Linked DNA regions of Homo sapiens. The protein of the gene in region 2 interacts with the protein of the main gene of each other region in a biochemical or structural test. Each region holds a gene or a part of one and is shown on either strand. Other genes may lie near its edges. The genes, in order: PLEKHO1, SMURF1, PDLIM7, SMAD5, UBE2D2, AXIN1 and ANKRD13D.

What was found.
Region 1: the proteins of SMURF1 (region 2) and PLEKHO1 form a complex in vitro, tested with the Homo sapiens proteins (4 studies listed by BioGRID and IntAct).
Region 3: the proteins of SMURF1 (region 2) and PDLIM7 are reported together in a solved structure, tested with the Homo sapiens proteins (2 studies listed by BioGRID, with this or other methods).
Region 4: of the proteins of SMURF1 (region 2) and SMAD5, one has a biochemical effect on the other in vitro, tested with the Homo sapiens proteins (3 studies listed by BioGRID, with this or other methods).
Region 5: the proteins of SMURF1 (region 2) and UBE2D2 form a complex in vitro, tested with the Homo sapiens proteins (3 studies listed by BioGRID).
Region 6: of the proteins of SMURF1 (region 2) and AXIN1, one has a biochemical effect on the other in vitro, tested with the Homo sapiens proteins (2 studies listed by BioGRID, with this or other methods).
Region 7: of the proteins of SMURF1 (region 2) and ANKRD13D, one has a biochemical effect on the other in vitro, tested with the Homo sapiens proteins (one large-scale study listed by BioGRID).

The regions. Positions count from the first base shown.
Region 1 is NC_000001.11:150,152,916-150,156,415, forward strand, and holds part of PLEKHO1 (pleckstrin homology domain-containing family O member 1), read left to right. Parts: intron 1-3,150; coding exon 3,151-3,291; intron 3,292-3,500. UniProt on the Homo sapiens protein: Plays a role in the regulation of the actin cytoskeleton through its interactions with actin capping protein (CP).
Region 2 is NC_000007.14:99,137,609-99,141,108, reverse strand, and holds part of SMURF1 (E3 ubiquitin-protein ligase SMURF1), read left to right. Parts: intron 1-3,500. UniProt on the Homo sapiens protein: E3 ubiquitin-protein ligase that acts as a negative regulator of BMP signaling pathway. Mediates ubiquitination and degradation of SMAD1 and SMAD5, 2 receptor-regulated SMADs specific for the BMP pathway.
Region 3 is NC_000005.10:177,482,894-177,485,249, reverse strand, and holds the end of PDLIM7 (PDZ and LIM domain protein 7), read left to right. Parts: intron 1-1,059; coding exon 1,060-1,180; intron 1,181-1,267; coding exon 1,268-1,383; intron 1,384-1,519; coding exon 1,520-1,606; 3' UTR 1,607-1,856; downstream 1,857-2,356. UniProt on the Homo sapiens protein: May function as a scaffold on which the coordinated assembly of proteins can occur. May play a role as an adapter that, via its PDZ domain, localizes LIM-binding proteins to actin filaments of both skeletal muscle and nonmuscle tissues.
Region 4 is NC_000005.10:136,139,345-136,142,844, forward strand, and holds part of SMAD5 (mothers against decapentaplegic homolog 5), read left to right. Parts: intron 1-3,500. UniProt on the Homo sapiens protein: Transcriptional regulator that plays a role in various cellular processes including embryonic development, cell differentiation, angiogenesis and tissue homeostasis.
Region 5 is NC_000005.10:139,620,339-139,623,838, reverse strand, and holds part of UBE2D2 (ubiquitin-conjugating enzyme E2 D2), read right to left. Parts: intron 472-3,500; coding exon 378-471; intron 1-377.
Region 6 is NC_000016.10:342,724-346,223, reverse strand, and holds part of AXIN1 (axin-1), read left to right. Parts: coding exon 1-76; intron 77-3,500. UniProt on the Homo sapiens protein: Component of the beta-catenin destruction complex required for regulating CTNNB1 levels through phosphorylation and ubiquitination, and modulating Wnt-signaling.
Region 7 is NC_000011.10:67,295,803-67,299,302, reverse strand, and holds part of ANKRD13D (ankyrin repeat domain-containing protein 13D), read right to left. Parts: intron 246-3,500; coding exon 179-245; intron 1-178. UniProt on the Homo sapiens protein: Ubiquitin-binding protein that specifically recognizes and binds 'Lys-63'-linked ubiquitin. Does not bind 'Lys-48'-linked ubiquitin.

The DNA.
Region 1 (3,500 bases), on a different chromosome or scaffold from region 2:
TACAGAGACAGAGGAAAGGATGGAATGACCTCAGCCTAGGATATCTGGTGTCCTATGAGTCAGGACCATCTGACTGGTCATGGAGCCAGCTGTCTCCTGCTGGGAAGGGCACAGGAAAGAGGGACTAGGCATATTGATACTGTGCTTTTTTAGAGCCAGTTTCAATGCTACAGTGGGCCTGGTTAAAAAGTGAAATTGACAGAGTACTCTGGGCTTTATTTTGCCCACTTGTGAAAAGCTCCAGGGCCAATAGAATCAAGACACGGTGTTCTGTTTTGTTTTGTTTTTTAGAGACAGGGTCTCACTCTGTCGCCCACGCTGGAGTGCAGTGTCACAATCGTAGCTCACTGCTGCCTTGACCTCCCGGGCTTAAGCAATCCTCCCACCTCAGCCTCCGGAGTAGCTGGGACTACAGGCATGCACCACCACACCCAGCTAATTTTTTTTATTTTTTGTAGACATGGGGTCTCACTATGTTTCCCAGGCTGGTCTCAAATTCCTGGCTTCAAGTGATCCTCCTGCCTCAACCTCCTGAAATTCTGGGATTATAGGCGTGAGCCACAGTCCCTGACCAAGATTTTTTTTTTTAAGGCAGAGTATAATCTATATCATTTACTGTTAATGCAAGAAAATTTCTAACCCTATCTCCCAGAATTTTCACCAGTCTCTTTTGTTATTTCCTCTCTTAAAGGCAGGGTCTCCCACAACCACCTCTGCCGTAGAATTTCTTCTGTGTTCGATAGTAATCATTTTCTTCCTTCTCAAAGGGCATCCTCTCTCAAAGAGGGCTGGAGCACCTTATGATCACAGGCTGATGTGTAAGAACAGAAGCTAGACCTTAGGAAGACCTCATGGTGGAGGAAATTGGATTCGGGGCAACTCTTTGGACAGGCGTGGGAAAAATCCCTTTCTATAGTCAAGGACGAAGAATCAGGGGAAAGGAAGGGTTAATTTGGAAGATGGGTAGTTATAAATGAGACTCTGGGAATTAGATATGTGGGGAAAAAAAAAACAATATGGTGGAGAACAAGGCTGCTTGGCTTTGTCCATCTTCCCAGGCACTGGAATATACTTGTCCTACTGCTTGCCTCACCCCATCTCCCACCCTCTCCACCAAGGGCTAACCTCTATCAGTGTCTCCTGCTCCCCAGAGCTCCTAATCAGTCTGTATGCAAGGTAGAATAACTCCCTTTCCTTCCCTTCCCCTAAGGAAAACATAGTAAGTTAACTCTCTTCCCCTGGCTACATTCACACACCCAACACTTTCCTCTCCACGGTTTCTGGGCTCTGCTGATAGTCTCAGCTCTGGAGAAGGAGGGGGAGAGGAGGGATGATGCATCATCTTGTATCCCTGTCCCGTGTTTCTGGGAATTGCTCTTGGACACCCCTTGCCAGCACCTTGTCCTACTTCCACCCGTAATCATTCAAGGCCTCTGGCCACTTTCCAGCCCAAAGCCAGGGAACCCTGGAAAGTGGGAGGCCCTGGAGGAGCCAAGCCTTGCTGAAACAAATGGAGGTAGATGTATGAGGCGTCACTCACCTGAATGGGGCCATGTTGACATCTGTCCTCATCTGTCATCAGCCTCCAGGTCCAGCAGCAGTTCAGAAGGATGGGCAGATACAAGACTGTAGATGGTCTGGGTAATGGAAGGGAGAACCACTTCCCCACTTCCAGGTTTCCAGGAACCAGGAGGATAGATGAGTTCACCTCCATGCACACGAGTCCTATTTCAGAACTTGGGAAGTTGGGGACTGTTTTGGAAAATAATTTCAGTCAGGGTGGGTAGATGTCATCCAAGGAAGACGTGAGGCTACTTTTATCTGTTTGTTTAGTTTTAATGAGACAAGTGCTGGTGCTTTTAATTCTCATTCCAGGAAAACGTGACCAGGTTTTTCCTGAGGTGTTCCAACCCTGGGCTCAAGCCACGGAGGGTGGACAGACTGCACGGTCTGGACTTGTAACTAAGTCTCCTCTCTGTAACTTTGGTCCTTGCTAGCCAAAACAAATCCATAAGCCACTGCTTCAGAGTCCCAGAGTTGTAGGAACACCACCTTAGGGGAAAAGAGAAAACATTGTGGTCAGTTTCAGATGAACCTGCGAAGAAATGTTCCTAGAGCTGCTTTGCAGTGCTCAGAAAAGGCTAGTTGGGGTTGGAGAATGTCACTAGGAATGCGGCCTCGATGAGACGTTCAGCAGGAGTGCTAAGAGCTAAATGTTGCTTAAAACCTGCTAAAGGTGGAACCAGAGTGCGGGACGGAGACTATAGCAGGGAGGGCTAAGTTTAGATAGGAGGAAGAGCTTCCTGGCAGTAAAGGGGGCCCAGGCACTCAAACTGGAATAATGGCAAGAAGTCACAGAAGTCACTTTTTTCCAAGTCTAAAGTGTAGTCTCCCAGGGAGAGTCTAAGTGCATTCTTGCCTAGAGATAGGGGGTCTGGAGGAGTTAGTTTGGATTGTCACAGTACCTTAGAGGGAGGAGGAAAGGGTAGGAACTGTAATTGTAGTTTTCAGCTTCTCTGGACAAATTCAGCAAACTGAACACGGGGCTGCCGTCCTGTGGTGGCGATGCTCCTGAAATGAACAAGGAAGATGAGTCTCTATAATTGTACATACCAGAGAAGGAAGCGAGGTGGGGTGGGAGAGCTATACTGCACACATGTGAGTGGGGAGGCCAGAGACCGCCCCTCGTTCCCTCCAGACACCCCGATAACTGGCCCTGCCTTGATCTTCTTTCTGTGGACCATCAAGGGCCATACAGGTCTGTCTTACTGAGGGCAATGGATCAACCATCTACCATGTCCCTTTAAGGACGTGAGCCTTTTTAGAACATGTAAGCTGTGTCCTTAAGGAAAAGAGTGGGGCGGTTGGTGAAGAGAGGCATAGTGGGACTCTGGAAATGGCAGCCTGGCTAAGGAGAGTGAAGAGAAGGGGTTTAAACAGAAACACACCTTAACATTCAAGACTTGGAGCTGCCCTAGCGTCCTCCTCGATGTGAGGACCTTGTAGGCTTTGGGCAGACGGCCCTCTCCTCTCCTGGCGTGCCTCCCTCTCCTCAGGCTTCCTCTGTTTCCCAAGATGATCTAAACTAACAGTCTGGGTGGAGGGGCTAAATAATTTTATCCTCCTCACCTCACCCCAACCCTCCCCTAGGTAAAAGATGAGAAAAATATTCAAGAGGTATTTGACCTGAGTGACTATGAGAAGTGTGAAGAGCTCCGGAAGTCCAAGAGCAGGAGCAAGAAAAATCATAGCAAGTTTACTCTTGCCCACTCCAAACAGCCCGGTAACACGGTATGTTTCTCCTGCCACCTTGGCTGCTGGAACATGGACAGGGTTGGAGGGGGCAGGGGAGAACTCCTTCCCCTCAGTTTCTCTCTCAGCAATCTTGGTTCAGATTCCCTGAATTGCTCTCCTGCTGGCTTTTATCATTTCACCTGAGAATATTGTAGCCATTTCCTTCTTTCCAGGCAGGCCACCCTTTAACCTGTTCAGCCACAAAG
Region 2 (3,500 bases):
CCCTTTCCCTTTCCCTTTCAGTAGATGTTATGAATGGTTTGAGAGGATTTGTGAGTGTGATCATCCTTACAATAGGATTGCGGTTTAGCGGTAATGGTACACATGCAATGCCAGTACGTGGAACCTTAGTTTACCTCGAAAGGTTTGAACTAGAAGTTTGTTGACGGTGGAATAGGTTTTAGTCTCATCTTTCTGGTTAAGGGAAGTTTGAATTCTCACTTCTGGGATGTTGAGAAGCAATCTTTCAAAATTTGAATACTTTTGTTACAGGTTTCAGAGTTTATTTCCATGTTTGTTATTTGGAAAAAAAAAAAAGACTGTTAAAAATGAGGGATATTTCAACCAGTCAATGAATAGACACAGAGCGAAATTCAGTGCAAAGATAGTGAAGATGGCCTGGCGCCGTGGCTCACGCCTGAATCCCAGCACTTTGGGAGGCTGAGGCAGATCACGAGGTCAGGAGGTTGAGACCATCCTGGCTAACACGGTGAAACCCCGTCTCTACTAGAAATACAAAAAATTAGCTGGGCGCGGTGGCTCACACCTGTAATCTCAGCACTTTGGGAGGCTGAGGTGGGGCGGATCACGAGGTCAGGAGATTGAGACCATCCTGACTAACACAGTGAAACCTCGTCTCTAGTAGAAATACAAAAAATTAGCTGGGTGTGGTGGCGGGCGCCTGTAGTCCCAGCTACTGGGTAGGCTGAGGCAGGAGAATGGCTTGAACCTGGGAGGTGGAGCTTGCAGTGAACCGAGATTGTGCCACTGCACTTCAGCCTGGGCAACAGAGTGAGACTCTGTCTCAAAAAAAAAAAAAAAAAAAAAAAGGATACTGAAGATACTACATTTAGAACTTTGGGGTCCACGATTCTATTTGGGGGTGAATAGGGCATTAGATTTACAGTTAGGAGACCTAGATTCTAGACAGATTTCTCATTAACTACATGTTACGGAACAAGTTATTTAACCTTTTTGGGTCTCAGTTTCTTTATATATCAAATGAGATTTCAGCTCCATTATAATACTCTTTGATCCTCCTTCTCACAGGATATATCAATTTAGCTACCTACTTATTTCAAATTACTGTTGGGCACTTGGGCTTAGTGGTATTCTTAATCCTGATATTCAGAAAATTGTGTTGGAGTGTAGCACATGTGTTTGATTTATGCCAAGCATTAATTTTGTGTATTGATTACATTTATGACTTTATTTCTTCATGTGGGATTGTTTTTGAAAACTGTTGGGTAATATGTTGAACTGCTTTGGCAACCTGGTCTAAACAGTAGAAGAATATTTGAGCCTTTGTATTTAAAATAATAACATTTTAACGAATGTTTTTGTGGTATTTTAGTAGGAAAATAGTTTTTAAATGGTTTCAGTAGGTTTAGGGGCATAATATATCCAGAATCAAGTGATCTTTTGTTAAAGAGCATTATCTTGTAGTCATTGGAGTTCACTGGCAAATCAAACACTTTAGAAACATTTTGATTGAAAAATCAAGCAGGATTTGCAAAAACTTTGTTCTTATCTGGTACACAAATGAATCCCAGACACATTGTTTAGGCCACTTTGGGTAAAAGAATGGAATTCAGGGTTCTACAATGCTCTTCAAGAAAATTAAATTTTATTGTAATGTCAACCAATTAGTTGAAATACAAGTGCCTAAACTTTTTTGTGCTTTTATGCATTGAAATACTCTCAGATATCCTGGTGTTTTTATATCTTTTGGAGCATGACTGCATATTGTGAAGTAAGAAAAACTCTAATTCCAAACAGAGAGGAACAAAGAGACTTTCCTTGATAGCATGTGGAAATATGAGGTTGTTTTTAAAATTGTAGCTTGTGGGATGTAAGGGTGACTTGTGTTTTGGCATTCAGATGGTGCAACTGTGAGTGAAATAGTTGTGGTAATAGCTGTTGATGATGTTGGTTGATGAATTACAGGTGTCTCAATTGATTCAAAATAGTTAAGTCTCTCAAGAAAGATTAAGAAAATTGTTAAGACTGTTGACTTTGTCAATTTGTACCAGCTAAGAACCTCACTTATGTGAGGCAGGCAAAACTTTTGTTTCAAAAACCATATAACACAGTTGCTGTGATAAGATGGAATAAGTGGTCAGTTTTTAGCTCCCTTTGCATTTACATTTTCCTTAGGGTCTGCCTCAAGTTTAGGAAGATACAGTTAAGGCAGTTCTTTGAGATGAATTATTGGAAGGTGTAGGATGGGTTAGAACAAATGCTGTTGCAAAACTTGAATTGCAATTATACTTTAAGAAGAATCACATTCTGCCAAATAGAGGTTTTTGTCATTGATTTTGTGATTTGATCACATTTGTGTTGCCTTTTAGAACAACTTTCTTTTTTCAAATCCATTTTTTTTTCCTTTTAATCTTCTTGGCCCACCCAACTGACTTTAGACATGAAATCTTTCATATGCTTTATTTCTATCTCCATTTTTACAGTAGTTGTGATTTATCAAACTAGGATTTTTAACTTCAAGTCCATCTGTCAGAGTTTAAAACCTCTAGTCTTGCAGTTACAAAAGTCCTTTCTGAATGTTGGGTTTTTCTTTCTCTTCCACACATTTTCATTTTCTCGGTTCAGTCACAATGTCAGGTTCTAGTGTGGAAAATTGGGTGAAAGAAAGGTTTTGGAGGCTGTGTTATTTATGAAATATTTCCTCATGGATTAAGAAAGAAAAAAAGACAAAACGACAAATAGTGTTTCAATATCACCTCAGTGATCCAGTTAACTAGACTGGCTGTTTTGTACAACATCGTGGGCACTGGTTAACAGTTAAAATAGCTGAATTGTGCGTTTTATTCAGTGGTTCAAAAAAGCCTCAAATGGATGAAATAACTTGATATCTTCGCCATGCTCTGATTTGCTGGGTAAGACAGCTAACTTTTAGGATGCTTATTTGGATCAATTTTTTATAATTTCAAAACCATTTTAGAGGCTAATTTTTTTTTAAACAAGGAATATACAATTTTTTTTTTTTGTCACTGAACAAGTTTTAAATTACTGGTTTGTTATTTTGTAAGTGAATTTGTAAGTGAAAGCCTCCAACTTAAATTAGCTTCTTGTCCAGGGAACTCATTCTGACTGACTAAAGTCCCTAAGGCCTTTCTAGTTAAAGGAAAGCCATGGAGCTATGTTTAAAAAACAAAAGCACATAGCTATGGGGCTTGGGCATATCTTCTTTTTAAAATGTCACTATTACTGTTTTGTCTCCAGATGCAATTTAATCCATTTAGATATTTAAACCAAGTGGAATGTTGTTTCCACATTTCTGGACTAATGGGGGAAAAAACACCCTCATATTGTTTTAAAACAAGGCTTAAATAATGTATAATCAGCGCGTCTGGTGACGCGCCCCACTCTGTAATTCCAGCTGTGTTCACCTCCACTGCAGCTGAAAGGAATTCTAATTGGCTGAGGAATGTCGGCAACATCGTTTATCACTGAGCAGGAACCTATCCTCCTGGCTGCTGGGTGAT
Region 3 (2,356 bases), on a different chromosome or scaffold from region 2:
GGCCAGGCACTGTGGGGATAGATCAGCTAACAAAACAGTTGATGCTTCCTGCCCTTCTGGGCCTTACATTTTGGCTGGAAGAAGAGGGGAGAGGCAGACTGTAAGCAATAAGCGCAATAAGTAGGTTGCCTGGAAGTAATGTTAGATCACGTTACGGAAAACAGGAAAGAGCAGAGCGACAAGTGCTGGGGTGCGTGGTGCAGGGAAGGCAGCTGGCTGCTGCTGGTGTGGTCAGAGTGGGCCCTCATGGAGAAGACTGCATTCGAGCAGAAACTTGAAGGGGGTGAGGGGTGAGCCTAGAGATATCTGGGGCAGAGCAGTCCAGGCAGAGGGGACAGCCGGTGTCAAGCCCAGGACAGGAGTGTGCCTGGTGTGCCAGTTTCAGGCAAGAGGCCAGTGTGCAGAGGCAAGGTGAGAACGCAAGGGAGAGCAGTGGCGGAGACGGTTGGGAACGAGGTCAGACCTGCTGGCCTCCAGCCTCTGCATGGGGCTTGGCTCTTGCTGGGAGCAATGGGAAGCAGTACACAGTTTCATGCAGGGGGAGAAGGCCTGTCTTGGGTTGCAGGGGCACGCTGTGGCAGCTGGGATCAGAGAGAGGAGCTTGTAGGCCAGTTGTTATGTGGTCCCACGGGCCAGATGGCCATGGCTTACCTCACTTCAGGGAGGCTGTGAGAAGCACTCAGAATCTGGATGTGCCTTGGGGGTGGGCCCCACTGGATTTCCTGGTGGACCTGGTGTGGGGTGTGAGAGGAGGGTGTGTTTGGCTGCAGCAGACAGGAGAATGGAGTTGCCATCCGCGTGATGGGGATGGCTGTGGGAGGAGAGGTTTGGGGTGAGGGAATCAGGAACTGAGTGCTGGACATGGCAAGTCTGAAGGCGCAGTGGTCGTCCACTCAGAGACCTTGGAGTTGGAGATGGAGGTGTGGGAGTCCTGAACAGTTAGATGTAGTGTTTACCGCGAGAAGGAACAGGGCTTGCGGCCAGCCCTCCTGTGTTCCCGTGACCCAGGGCAGGGCAGGAGGGGCCTGAGCCTGCCGAGTGACTGGGACCTCCTTCCAGGAGATCATGCACGCCCTGAAGATGACCTGGCACGTGCACTGCTTTACCTGTGCTGCCTGCAAGACGCCCATCCGGAACAGGGCCTTCTACATGGAGGAGGGCGTGCCCTATTGCGAGCGAGGTACCCACTGGCCAGTGAGGGTGAGGAGGGATGGTGCATGGGGCAGGCATGAATCCAGGTCCTCTTTCTCTCTGCCCCCATTCTCAGACTATGAGAAGATGTTTGGCACGAAATGCCATGGCTGTGACTTCAAGATCGACGCTGGGGACCGCTTCCTGGAGGCCCTGGGCTTCAGCTGGCATGACACCTGCTTCGTCTGTGCGGTGAGAGCCCCGCCCCTCGAACTGAGCCCCAAGCCCACCGGCCCTCTGTTCATTCCCCAGGAGATGCAGGAGAAGTTGGGAAGGGGCCTCTCCTGCTGCCCCCAACCCCATGTGACTGGGCCTTTGCTGTCCTTAGATATGTCAGATCAACCTGGAAGGAAAGACCTTCTACTCCAAGAAGGACAGGCCTCTCTGCAAGAGCCATGCCTTCTCTCATGTGTGAGCCCCTTCTGCCCACAGCTGCCGCGGTGGCCCCTAGCCTGAGGGGCCTGGAGTCGTGGCCCTGCATTTCTGGGTAGGGCTGGCAATGGTTGCCTTAACCCTGGCTCCTGGCCCGAGCCTGGGGCTCCCTGGGCCCTGCCCCACCCACCTTATCCTCCCACCCCACTCCCTCCACCACCACAGCACACCGGTGCTGGCCACACCAGCCCCCTTTCACCTCCAGTGCCACAATAAACCTGTACCCAGCTGTGTCTTGTGTGCCCTTCCCCTGTGCATCCGGAGGGGCAGAATTTGAGGCACGTGGCAGGGTGGAGAGTAAGATGGTTTTCTTGGGCTGGCCATCTGGGTGGTCCTCGTGATGCAGACATGGCGGGCTCATGGTTAGTGGAGGAGGTACAGGCGAGACCCCATGTGCCAGGCCCGGTGCCCACAGACATGAGGGGAGCCACTGGTCTGGCCTGGCTTGGAGGTTAGAGAAGGGTAGTTAGGAAGGGTAGTTAGCATGGTGGCTCATGCCTGTGATCCCAGCACTTTGGAAGGCCAAGGTGGGCAGATCGCTTGAGGTCAGGAGTTCGAGACCTCATGGCCAACACGGTGAAACAGCGTCTCTAGTAAAAATACAAAAATTAGCCGAGTGTGGTGGGGCATGCCTGTAATCCCAGCCACTCAGGAGGCTGAGGCGGGAAAATCACTTGAACCTGGGAAGTGGAGGTTGCAGTGAGCTGAGATCACACCACTGCGCGCGAGCCTG
Region 4 (3,500 bases), on a different chromosome or scaffold from region 2:
CATTTTATTCATATGGTTAATGTGTATAAAACTTAACCCTGAATCTTCCTTTAGCTTTCTTATCTGCATTTGCCAAATCAGTTGATGTCAAACCCCATTCTTCCAGTTGTCCAGGCTGATACCTTGGAATCATTGTTAACTCCTTTGTTCTCATACACCCCATGATCTCCTTCATCAGGAAGCTTACTGTCTTTCATATGTCTGCTGCTCACCACCCCACTGCTATCACCCTGGTTGTAAGCCATCGTCATCTTCTCCCCTCCCTTAGATTACTGCATCTCTGAACTGGTCTCGCTGCTTTTATCATTGCTGTCCACCCCTCCTCCTGCTTATTCTCAACATACCAGCCAGGATTTATTTATTTATTTTGAGACGGAGTCTTGTGCTGTCACCCAGGCTGGAGTGCAGTGGCATGATCTTGGCTCACTGCTACCTTGACCTCTTGGGCTCAAGTGATCCTCCCACCTCAGCCTCCTAAGTAGATGGGATCACAGGCATGTGCCACTGCACCTGGCTAATTTTTTAATTAAAAACAATTTTTTTTTGTAGAGATGGAGTTTTAAAAACTATGTTGCCCAGGCTAGGCTTGAACCGCTGAGCTCAAGTGATTCTCCTGCCTTGGCCTTCCAAAGTACTGGGATTACAGGCATGAGCCACCACGCCTGGCCCAGGATAACTCTTTTTTTTTTTTTTTTTGAGATGAAGTCTAGCTTTGTTGGCCAGGCTAGAGTGCAGTGGTATGATCTTGGCTCACTGCAACCTCTGCCTCCCGGGCTCAAGCAATTCTCCTTCCTCAGCCTCCCAAGTAGCTGGAATTACAGGCACATGCCACCACACCCAGCTAATTTTTGTATTTTTCGTAGAGACGGGGTTTCACCATGTTCGCCAGGCTGGTCTTGAACTCCTGACCTCAGGTAATTTGCCCACCTCGGCCCAGGATAATTCTTTAATAGTGTAAGTCGAGAACTATCATGTCTGTGCTCAGAGCTCTCCACTGAGTTCACAGTTTCCTTAGAGTACTGTAAAAGCTAAAGCCTTTATATCCAGCATGGCCATTCTGGCTCTCTGGTATCTCTTTGACCCCACTCCTTACCTTTTCCCCCTCGTACACTGTGTTCTCAGGCTATACTGGTCTTCTAGCCAGTATATGCTCTTCATGCCAGAAGCATGCCAGACATGCTCCTACCTTAGGATCTTTGCATTGCCTGTTGCCTTTACCTGTAATGGTTTTCCCCTAGATATATGCCTGTTGGCTCACTCTTTTATTTCCTTAACATTTTAACTCAGTTGGCACCTTCTTGGTGAGACCCAGCCCAGCCACCCTGTTTAAAATTACACCTCTCTTCCAGGACTTCTTGTCCACCTTCCCCTGTTTTAATTTTTCTCTATAGCACTTTTCACCTAACAAACATATCATTTACTATATCTCGTTGGCCTCCTTCTGCTGGAATATAAGCTAAATGAAGACAAGTGTTTTGGTTCCTTTTATTCACTTCTATATTCCCAGCTCCTAAAATGCTATCTTAATAAATATTCTTTTGGATGAATGACTTGAATGAATTTGACAAGTTATTGTAATGTATGTGGTACTGTTTTTTAAAGATTATATTCTAGTGCGAGAGACAGAAATAAAGTAAATGAACAAATTATTATGAATCAGTTAATACAGTGAAGAAAATGAACATAGTATTGGATTAGAGATTAGGGAAACTCTATATAGGATTATGGGGTGATCAGGGAAGGTATCTGGGATGAGAGCTAAAGCTGAGACTTAAATAACGATAGAGCTAAAAATTAGTGGCCAGGGATTAAGAAAAGTGGTATAAGCAGAAAATGGCATTTGTAATATCTGAGGTTCAAAAGACATTCCAGTATAGGAAGATAAATGCTTTTGAAGAATGAGTTCTTACTAATATTTATTGGGAGCAGGAATAATGCTTCTGGAGTTTGATTTCATTGTTTTGAGGAGCAACAGCTCATTTGTAGTAACAGGACACACTGTGAAAAGTGCTAGATACCTGGATTACATGCCCTTTCTCTGTCTCTCTGTGTTCCTCTAGTAACTTGAGTTTATCTCATTGTACTTACATATAGGGGTATAGTTTGGTGTCTGTCGTGCTACGTTATTCTGTGAAGGGAGATTCTGTCCCGTTTGCATTTTTGCTATTCCCACTCTTCACTCATATAGTACCTTTGTATGGGACTTAGAAAAAGGCCTTCTCATTTATTCCTTCACCCTTGGCTAGTGCTGATAAACCCCTGCATGTCCTACAATGTCTGCTAGTTAGTAGGTGCTCAATAAGTGTTTAATGATTCATGGCTGTTATAGCTGCTGAGTCAGTTAATGCACATATACTTAAAGAAGTAGGTGTACCTTATGATAATCATTTCTGTATTTCTGTTGATTAACCTAGAGTACTATAGTTATGGAAGTATTTGTACCTAGTTTCTGATTTGATTTTTCTTAGTTTCAACCTCCAAATTTGTATAACCCCAAGTATATTAGAGAGAATTGTTTTGAAGCAGGAATGACTCATGATAATGTAAATCCTCTCTTTAGTAAGGGTTCATAATATGGCTGAGGTATAGCTGCACTTTAATTTTGAAACCTGTTTTTCCTCTGACTCTTCAAGAAATATGTTTATTTTAAAAAATATAGAATTAGATGAAGCAGAAAGTGAAAAGTACACCTAACCCCACCACCAGAGCTAATATCACAAACCCTTTCTTTCATTAAACAAATATTTATTGAGCATATGTATCACTAGGCTTACAGTGATGAGTGAAAACAGATACAGCTCTTCTCGTGGAATTTACATTCTTGTGGGGACAGATTTGAAAGGTAAATGTAAAAACATAGGTGTGGTAAGTGCTACAAAGTAGGAGTATGTGATGCGGTAAGCATATAAGAGGGGGACTTCTAGCCAGGACGGTTTGGGAAGACTTCCCCGAAGAAGGGATGCTTGAGCTGAAAGAGAGGTGAGGTGTGTGTGTGTTTTGTAATGTGATAGATTCATTTGTAATTCATGATATACCGTAATTTTATAAGGTTTTCATTTATGGCTGAGGTACCACTGCATCTCTTTTGGTACACTAATGACGTTCTGTGTTCAGTCAGTGGTTGCAGTTTTTCAGAAGAATCAGGGAACCTCACGTACACAGGAATTTCTAAATATTATGATTACCTTGGTTTTCTTTCTAGCTTTGAGGTCATTTCTCTAAGAAATGACAAAATACATCAATAAAAGGGTATTATCAAGTCAAGTCTTCATAAACCAAAGGTATACTATGAAAGGCCAAGATAATAGCAGATAATGGGTTCATAGCTGTTAAGTCCCTCCAGTTTCTAGTGTAAGAAGGAGCATACCTTCCTGTCTGTTCAATTATTGGCTCTCTGTGCTTGGTGTACATTTTTTTAAACTCAATTTTAATGCCCTATTTCTGTTGGCTATCATATGGAAATAAATATAGGATAAAACTAAGTGATAGGCTAAATGGCA
Region 5 (3,500 bases), on a different chromosome or scaffold from region 2:
GCGCCTGTAATCCCATCTACTCGGGAGGCTGAGGCATGAGAATCACTTGAACCCAGGAGGCGGAGGTTGCAGTGAGCCAAGACTGCACCATTGCACTCTAGCCTGGGTGACAGAGTAAGACCCTGTCTCAAAAAAAAACAAACAAAAAAAAAAGTTTTTGTAGACAAGAGGAGTCACGTGAAACAATCAGGGATAAGACTGGCATCATCTACTTATAATAATACTCAATGCATATATTTCTCTTTTCTAGCCCCAGGAGAGTATATTAGGACTTCACTTTAAATATCTGGCCGATATTCAGCCCTTAAACAAGAAAGATTTGTGACAAACATCTCCATCCCACCACAGATAACTTTCCATCTTGAGGCCATACTTACTTTTCTCTATCTGTTTTGTAGATCCGAGCAATCTCAGGCACTAAAGGATCATCTGGATTGGGATCACACAACAGAGAACAGATGGACAAGAGTACTAGAATGAAAAAAATCATATAAATTAGCAGAGGATCAAAGCAAAGGGTTGAGAGAAACATGAGACGCCAAAACATGAGAAAATTCTAAGAATTTATACTGTAATGCCTAGCAGCTTTGTAAGTTTTACTTAACTTTATATTAACAGTAACCAACAAGGATTATTATTATTATTATTATTTCTTTTTTTTTTAGCAGAATTGGGGTTTCACCATGTTGGCCAGGCTGGTCTCGAACTCCTGACCTCAGGTGATCCACCCACCTCGGCCTCCCAAAGTCCTGGGATTACAGGCTTGAACCACCATGCCTGGCCTAATTTTTGTATTTTTAGTAGAGATGGGGTTTCGCCATGTTGGTCAGGCTGGTCTGGAACTCCTGACCTCGTGATTCACCCGCCTCGGCCTCCCAAAGTGCTGGGATTACAAGCGTGAGCCACCACACCTGGCAAATAGTTTTTTTTATTTTTTATTTTTTGAGACGGAGTCTGGCTCTGTCGCCCAGACTGGAGTGCAGTGGCGCGGCGCGGTCTAGGCTCACTGCAAGCTCCGCCTCTCAGGTTCACACCATTCTCCTGCTTCAGCCTCCTGAGTAGCTGGGACTACAGGCACCCGCCACCACGCCCGGCTAATTTTTTGTATTTTTAGTAGAGACGGGGGTTTCACCGTGTTAGCCAGGATGGTCTCGATCTCCTGACCTCGTGATCCGCCCACCTTGGCCTCCCAAAGTGCTGGGATTACAGGCGTGAGCCACTGCACCCAGCCTACCAACAAGGATTTTAAGAAGCTTAAACAGACTTTAGGTTAGGTCATTAAAAAATAAAAATGAAGGCTGGCTGCAGTGGCTCATGCCTGTAATCCCAGCACTTTGGGAGGCGGAGGGGGGTGGATCACGAGATCAAGAGATTGAGACCATCCTGGCCAACATGGTAAAACCCCATCTCTACTAAAAATACAAAAATTAGCTGGGCGTGGTGGTGTGTGCCTGTAGTCCCAGCTACTCAGGAGGCTGAGGCTGGAGAATCGCTTGAACCTGGGAGGTGGAGGTTGCAGTGAGCCGAGATCGTAGCATTGCACTCCAGCCTGGGCGACACAGCAAAAAATCCATCTCCAAAAAATAATAATTATAATAAAAAATAAAAAATAAAATAAAACAAATAGCAGAAAATTAATGTTAAATGACATCTTGGTCTCCCAGATACAAATATAAGCCCCTTTGTGCAAAGTCTCACAACAATCCCATGATGTAAGAAGAGTTGATATGACTGTCTTTATGCCTGAACTCCTAAGGGAGCTGGCCCAGACAGGTGCAGTGACGTGTTCAATGTCCCTGGCTAGTAATTAGAATAGAATTAGAACTTTGTCTAAATTCTAGACCAAGAACATTTTTCAGATCCCATAAAGTTCAATTTTTTAGAAGCCCATATTCAAGGATAAATGGCTTTCAAAATTCCAAGTGCGATGGCTCACTCCTGTAATCACAGCACTTTGGGAGGCCACAGCAGAAGGATCGCTTCAGGCCAAGAGTCTGAGACCAGCCTAGGCAACAGAGTGAGATTCTGTCTCTACAAAAAATAAAAATATTAGCTGGATGTGGTGGCACACTCCTATGGTCCCAGCTACTCAGGAGGCTGAGGTGGGAGGATCACTTACGCCCAAGAGGTTAAGGCTGTATTGAGCTGTGTTCACACCACTGCACTCCAATCTGGGTGACAGAGTGAGACCCTGCCTCAAAAAGAAAAAAAAAAAAGACAGCCACACTACTGAATATTCTTAGCAAAAACGACAACCATAAAATCCAACAATCACTGTTTTCCAGTGGCAGGCACCACATTCAGACAATTGTTTTGTTTAATTTTCAGTTGAAAACAATTCAGTCTAAATCAAGAACATAAATGCAAACACTTGCCCCTAAATGGGGATGGTCATACACTCATTACAGAGAATACAACATACTTCTATGAATGTCTCAAATTCTCTTCAGTGACAATTTAGAATCTCATCTAAGCCATTTCCTCGGTGACAACCTGGGATGTAGCAGACAAATCTCAATAGTGTAATTTCCTTTGTTCAAATCTGTCATTAACTTATGTTTTAAAATATTTATTTATTTATGTATGTATTTATTTAGAGACAGGGTCTCACTCTGTCGCCCAGGCTGGAGTGCAGTGGCATGATCTTGGCTCATTGCAGCCTAAACCTCCTGGGCTCAAGTCATCCTCCCACCTCACTCTCCAGGTAAGACTACAGGTGAGTGCCACCATGTGTAGCTAATTTTCTTTGTATTTTTTGTAGAGGTTGGGTTTTGCCATGTTGGCCAGGCTAGTCTTGATCTCCTAGGCTCAAGTGATCCACCTGCCTCGGCCTCCCGAAGTGCTGGGATTACAGGCGTGAACTACCACACCCGGCCATATCTATCATTAACTTATGCATTCCTTACTGAATGCAAAGGGGGCATAAAGTCACTGATTACATTAAGTTCAGTAGCCTCTGACAAAATAAATTTAAATCCTTCTATACTAATGCTAATAGAGCTCAGCCATCTTTCTTTTCTCTAATAGGTGTTCTGTACCAAGAGATAATAACTCTCAGCCCATTTTACTCCCAACACATAAATTCAGCAGGGAAAGGATTCGCTCATATTCCTACCAAATCTATCCTATAGAGATCAAGGGCTTCTGAGAAGTAAAGAAATAGTTGGCATGCCCTATTCAGTTTGGTAACAAAAATGCTATTTCCTTGCCTTAAGAGTATATGAAAAGTTTTTTTAAAAAATCAGGAGAGATGTTTTCTGACTCTTCATTCCTGTTACCCACAATTCTGGCAGCTGGCATTCCAAAAACATTTTCCTATTGTCAGGTGTCATCACCTGAAGCCCTCTTCAAGCATAGAACATTCTAACATCAATTAGGAAAGACTTCATGTATTTCCTGGAAATGACAACAGGGAAGTTAGAAATTTTTGAATGTTCCTTTAACTTATTCTTCTAAATATTCTAATAAGTCAACTTTAAAGGACAGGTTTTAAAGAAAGG
Region 6 (3,500 bases), on a different chromosome or scaffold from region 2:
CTCAGAAGCTGCTCCTGGAGACAGCTGCCCCGAGGGTCTCCTCCAGTAGACGGTACAGCGAAGGCAGAGAGTTCAGGTGAGTCCGACGCCAGGCGTCCACTTTCTGTACTCACCTCCGAGAGCTGGAGAACAAGCCAGGGAAAGGTGCTGATGAGGCGGGCGTTAACCCACACCGGATGTCCTGCTGCCGCTGGGGTTGAATTTTGGTTCTGTTCTTATTTGTGATACTTTTGCATTTGTCATTACTTTTTTATATTTGTAATGTTGAGAACACTTTTACTGAGAACAGACTAAAATATATGACTTTATGAGTCATTAGGAACATCGGAATTCTTAGAAGTCACAATGACATGTAAACTTTACCCTTCAGCAGTAAAGTCTGTCACCTCTTAAATAGGAGCTGGATCTACCCAGTAGACATGGTCCTTTCCGCTTAATAAAGGGAGGAGTGGACGTTTCAGGGCATCGATAAGAATTGGAGAATTGGATTCTTGCTTTTTTTTTTTTTTGAGACGGAGTTTCACTTTTGTTGCTCAGGCTGGAGTGCAATGGTACAATCTCAGCTCACTGCAACCTTCGCCTCCCGGGTTTGAGCGATTCTCCTGCCTCAGCCTCCTGAGTAGCTGGGATTACAGGCATGTGCCACCACGCCCGGCTAATTTTGCATTATTAGTAGAGGTGGGGTTTCTCCATGTTGGCCAGGCTGGTCTCGAACTCCCGACCTCAGGTGATCTGCCTGCCTCGGCCTCCCAAAGTGTTGGGATTACAGGCGTGAGCCGCCGCATCCGGCCAGATTATTGCTTTTATAATGATCTTCTAAGCTTCTTCCTACAGGCTGAGAAATAGCAGGGGGGACGTTTTACGTGTGGGGAATGGTCAGAGTACTTTGAAAACTTCCTGTGGCTATAGTGGGCATTCCAGGATTGGGCCTTTTTTCCTGCCAACAAAATCTGTTGGTGCTGTTGTGTAGTCCACAGCAGCCTGGACCCTGAGGCGATCCTGGCAGGGCCTGTGGGGTGCGTGTGTTGCCTGGGAGGGAGCAGAGTGGTGCTCAGCCTTGGAACCTGTTTCTTCGTTCTTCCTTCCCTGTGATCCCTGCGTGGTTCCTGGAGGTTTATTTGGCTTTCGGGCTGGCATCTACTGTGCTTGTGAGCAGAGCGCATGCATTTCCCACTCTTTCCCTAGAGCTGGTGACCGGAGGCTCCGGCCTGTGTAACTTTGAAAGCCTGGAATTCATGTGACCCCTGCTGACCTAATCAAGACTCCGAAAGCACAGCCCCATGTGCTGGGACTCTCCTGAGGAGTTATTAAAAACTCGCATTAGTTCTTCAAGCTTACTGTGACACAGAAATTGGCTACTCGCTCATCAACACAGGATTAAACATGTCTAAGGTTAAACTTGTAGTCTAAGTGATACGATTTAAGATGGACTGTCGACTGGGCGCAGTGACTCACACCTGTAATCCCAGCACTTTGGGAGGCCGAGGCGGGCGAATCACCTGAGGTCGGGAGTTCGAGACCATCCTGGCCAACGTGGTGAATCCTCATTTCTACTAAAAATACAAAAATTAGATAGGCGAGTTGGCGCATGCCTGTAATCCCAGCTCCTCGGGAGGCTGAAGCAGGAGAATCGCTTGAACCTGGGAGGCAGAGGTTGCAGTGAGCCTTGGTTGTGCCATTGCACTCCAGCCTGGGCGACAAGAGGACAAGAGTGAAACTCTGTCTCAGAAAAAAAACAAAAAAAAAACAAAAAAGGATTGTGTAGGTTAATTGGTTAATTTTTTTTTTTTTTTTGAGATGGAGTCTTGCTCTATCGCCCAGGCTGGAGTGCGGTGGCGCCATCTCGGCTCACTGCAAGCTCCGCCTCCCAGGTTCACGCCGTTCTCCTGCCCCAGCCTCCCAAGTAGCTGGGACTACAGGCGCCCGCCACCATGCCGGCCAATTTTTTGTATTTTTAGTAGAGACTGGGTTTCACCATGTTAGCCAGGATGGTCTCGATCTCCTGACCTCGTGATCGCCTGCCTCAGTCTCCCAAAGTGCGGGGATTACAGACGTGGGCCACCACGCCCGGCCTTTTTTCCCTTTTGTTCATTGTCTTTAGCCAAGTGGTATTTATTTAGCAAGCATTTTAGGACACAATATGCCGCAAAGTTATCCTGTTGAGTAAGCCTGGTATAAACTGAGAGTTTCTTTCTTTCTTTCTTTTTTTTTTTTTTGAAATGGAGTCTCGCTCTGTCACACAGGCTGGAGTGCAGTAGCACTATCTCGCTATCTCGGCTCACTGCAACTTCTGCCTCCTGGGTTTAAGTGATTCTCCTGCCTCCCGAGTAGCTGGGATTACAGGTGTGTGCTACCATGCCTGGCTAATTTTTGTATTTGTGGTAGAGACAGCGTTTCGCCACGTTGGCCAGGATGGTCTCGAGCTCCTGGACTCCAGTGATCTCAGCCTCCCAAAGTGCTGGGATTACGGGTGGGAGCCACTGCACCTGGCTGGTTATTTTTTTTGCTTGTTTTTTTGTTTGAGATGGAGTCTCGCTCTGTCGCCCAGGCTGGAGTGCAGTAGTGCAATCTCAGCTCACTGCAACCTCTGCCTCCTGGGTTCAAGTGAGTCTCCTGCCTCAGCCTCCCGAGTAGCTGGGATTACAAGTGTGAGCTACCATGCCCAGCTAATTTTCTGTATTTTTAGTAGAGATGGGGTTTTACCACGTTGGCCAGTCTGGTCTCGAACTCCTTTCCTCAAGAGATCTGCCCGCCTCAGCCTCCCAAAGTGCTGGGATTCCAGGTGTGAGCCACTGCGCCCGGCCCCGGCTGGTTATTTTTAAGATGGGACTGAAGTTGAGGGCTGGGCTGCAGGAGGAAAATGAGCTCCGTTCTGATTTCCACTGTTGGAACCCCAGTGCCTCCCTCCCAGCCACTCTTCAGTTCTTGGCTGCGAGCAGTAGCTTTGCTGTCTGTCCTTGGTTTGCTGTATTTGTAATAAGGAACCTTTGCTATGAAATTAGTGGGATACATTGGCTTCTCCTGTCTAATTTTGTGTAGCTCTGTCTACACAGTTTGGGTCCTAACTTGACTGCTCTGGGGCTGCTGGTGGCAGAGGACCCTGGGGCTTGGGAGTCGTGTCTGCGGTTGAATCCTCTCTGTGGGAGGTGGCCTGTGGTGCAGCCTTGTGGCTTGAAGATCTCTGATGTTGGAATGGTTGCTTGTCAGCACAGACAGGGCATGAAGTCCAGGCTGCGTTCCTCACATTTAGACCATTCTCTTTGTCCTGCCAGGTGTAGGTGAGGGTGCACTAGGTTGGAAGTCGTGGAAACCCACCCACCTGAGCCCAACCCTGAAGGGCACTGTTGAGGCAGAGCCTCAGGTGTGCCTTAGGGCCTGGCACCTTTGCTTTGTGCCATTCTGACTTTGCCTGCCTGGTGGGCGACTTCGTGGGCTTTGTGTTGGAGGTGGCTGCTGCAGTGACCTTGGGCTCTGGGCTCCCTTGTTTACAGATGCTTCCC
Region 7 (3,500 bases), on a different chromosome or scaffold from region 2:
CCCATGATGTGGGTGAGCCCTGTGTACTCCGCAGGGGCTGGGCACTCAGGCCCGCTGAGTTCCCACAAATGCTCAGGGTTTCCAGAGCCCAGGGGCTACTCTGGGATGGATGTGGAGAGGAGCTGAGTTCCTGGACCTCATCTCCTACCCCCAGCCCCCCACCCCTAGCCTCTCCTGCCTTGGCCTCGTAGCCGCTAACAGTTTCCATCTTCTCAGACCGCCAGCCCCAGATACCACATTTGTTCCTGAAACAGACCAAACAGGAGCTGGTGAGACCTGCACCCTCACACGCTGGCCAAAGCCTTCCTTTCCAAAGCCCCCTCCAGCCAGCCTGCCCGGGGTGCCCAACTCTCAGGGCCCCTTCTCGCTATGAAACATGGAGGACCCCTGAAGAGGGTGCCTGGACAGGGGGGGACACTTGAGCATGGACTTGGGACTAGAAGACACTGAGGAATTAGCATGAATCTTGTGAGGTATGATAGTGTCGGGGCTGGGTTTAAAAACATCCTTGTCTTTTAGAATTGTGCAGAAGCATTTACTAGAAACATTAGGACATCTGGGATGAGCTTTGACACACTCTAGGAAACATTTTTAAAAAAGGTAAGGAAGGATAGATTCAGTAAGATTGGCAAGATGTTGATAAATGTTGAAGCTGGGTGATGAGTAAGTACATTATCTCTTCTTTCATATATGTTTGAAATTTTCCAAAATAAAAAGCTAAAAGAAAAGTATGTCAGTTGGAGACTCCAGTACCCCACTTTCAATAAGGGATAGAACAACTAGAAGATCAACAAAGAACCAGAAGATAAGAACAACACTACAGCTGGACTTCATAAGCAGGCTAGAACACTCTACCCAATAACAACCACACACACGCTTCTCACGCGCACACGGAACACTCTTCAAGGCCATACACTAGGCCATTAAGAAAACCTCAATAAGTCCGGGCGCGGTGGCTCATGCCTGTAATCCCAGCAGTTTGGGAAGCCAAGGGGGGTGGATCATGAGGTCAGGAGATCGAGACCATCCTGGCAAACATGATGAAACCCCGTCTCTACTAAAAAATACAAAAAATTAGCCGGGCACGGTGGTGGACGCCTGTAGTCCCACCTACTTGGGAGGCTGAGGCAGGAGAATGGCGTGAACATCGGAGGCAGAGCTCGCAGTGAGCAGACAGTACCACTGCACTCCAGCCTGGGCGACAGAGCGAGACTCCGTCTCAAAAAAAAAAAAAAAAAAAAAAAAAGAAAACCTCAATAAAATTGAAAGGATAGAAGTCATACAATGTATGTTTTCCAACCACAATGGAATGAAATTAGAAGTCAATAGCAGAAAAAAAAAACTTTGGAAATTCACAAATATGTAGAAAGTAAACAACACACTCCTAAATAGCCAACGTCTCAAATAATAAATCAAAAGAGAAATCAGAAAATACTCTGAGATAAACAGGAATAAAGACACAACATATCAAAACTTATGGCCGGGCACGGTGGCTCACGCCTGTAATCCCAGCACTTTGGGAGGCCGAGGCAGGCAGATCACAAGGTCAGGAGATGGAGACCATCCTGGCTAACACAGTGAAACCCCATCTCCACTAAAAATACAAAAAATTAGCCGGGCGTGGTGGCAGGCGCCTATAGTCCCAGCTACTCGGGAGGCTGAGCCAGGAGAATGGCGTGAACCCGGGAGGCGGAGCTTGCAGTAAGCCGAGATCGTGCCACTGCACTCCAGCCTGGGCGACAGAGCAAGACTCCCTCTCAGAAAAAAAAAAAAAAACCAAAAAACTTATGAGACACAGGTAAAGGCCAGGCCAGGCCCGGTGGCTCACGCCTGTAATCCCAGCACTTTGGGAGGCTGAGACAGGCAGATTGCTTGAGCACAGGAGTTCGAGACCAGCCTGTGCAACATGGTGAAACCCCATCTCTACTAAAAACAGAAAAAATTAGCTGGCGCCTGTGTTCCCAGCTACTCAGGAGGCTGAGGTGGGAGGATCACTTGAGCCTGGGAGGCGGAGGTTGCAGTGAGCTATCACACCACTGCACTCCAGCCTGGGCGATGGAGTGAGACCCCATGTCAAAAAAAGAAAAGACATGCCTAGAAGTATAAATGTAATATGTGTGAATGCCTATATTAAGAAAGAAGATCTCAAATCAATAACCTTAACCTAACCTTCCATGTTAAGACAATGGAAAAAGAGCAAACTAAACCAGAAAGAACAGAAAGAAATAATAAATATTACAGTAAAGGTTAATGAAATAGAGAATAGAAAAATAATAGAGAAAATTAATGAAACCAAAAACTGGCTCTTCGAAAACATCAACAAAATTGACAAACCTTTAGCTAGGTTGACCACGGTGGGCAAAAAAAGAGAGAGAAGACTTGGCTGGGGGCGGTGGTTCACACCTGTAATGTCAGTGCTTTGGGAGGCCAAGGCAGGAGGATTGTTTGAGGCCAGGAGTTCAAAAGCAGCCTGGATGACATAGTGAGACCACATCTCTACAAAAAAAGAAAATTAGCTGGGCTTGGTGGTGCATGCCTGCAGTCCCAGCTACTTGGGAGGTTGAAGAATCACCTAAGCCCAGGAGTTCAAGGCTGCAGTGAGCTCTTATCATGCCACTGCACTTCAGCCTGGGTGACAGAGTAAGACTCTGTCTCAAAAACAAAACAAAACAAAACAAAACAAAACAAAACAAAAACTTCAAATTACTCACCAGAATCAGAAATGAAAGAGGGGAGCAACAGAAATAAAAAGCATTATAAAAGGATACAATGATAGCTGTACACCAACAAATTTTATAATTTAGATGAAATGGACAAATTCCTAGTGAGACACAAACTACCAAAACTAATTTGAGAATAAATAGATAATCTGAATAGATGGATAACAAGTCAAGAGACTGATTGGTAAATATAACAACAAAAAACTATACACACATACACACACACACACACACACACACACACTCAGGCCCAAATGGCTTCACCACTGAATCCTACCAATCTTTTGAAGACAAATTAATACCAATTATTTGCAAACTATTAAAAAAAATAGACAAAGAGGTGACATTTTCCACTTCAGTTATGAGGCATCACCCAGATACCAAAACCAGACATATATCACAAGAAAACTACAGACCAATATCACTTATGAATATGGACACAAAATCCTCAACAAAATACGAACCAACCAAATCTAGCAACATATGAAAAGAATTATACACCACAACCAAGTGGAACTTATCACAGGAATGCAAGGTTGGTTCAATATCCATAGGTCAATTGATGTATCAATAGAATTTTTTAAAAAATCACATGATCATATCAATAAACACAGAAAAAGCATTTCACAAAATCCAACATCCTTTCATGATAAAAACACTCTAACAATGAGGAATGGAAAGGAATTACCTTAACCTGATGAAGGGTATCTACCAAAAACTCACAACTAATATCATACTTAATGGTAAGACTGAATGTTTTTCCCCTAAGATGAAGAACAA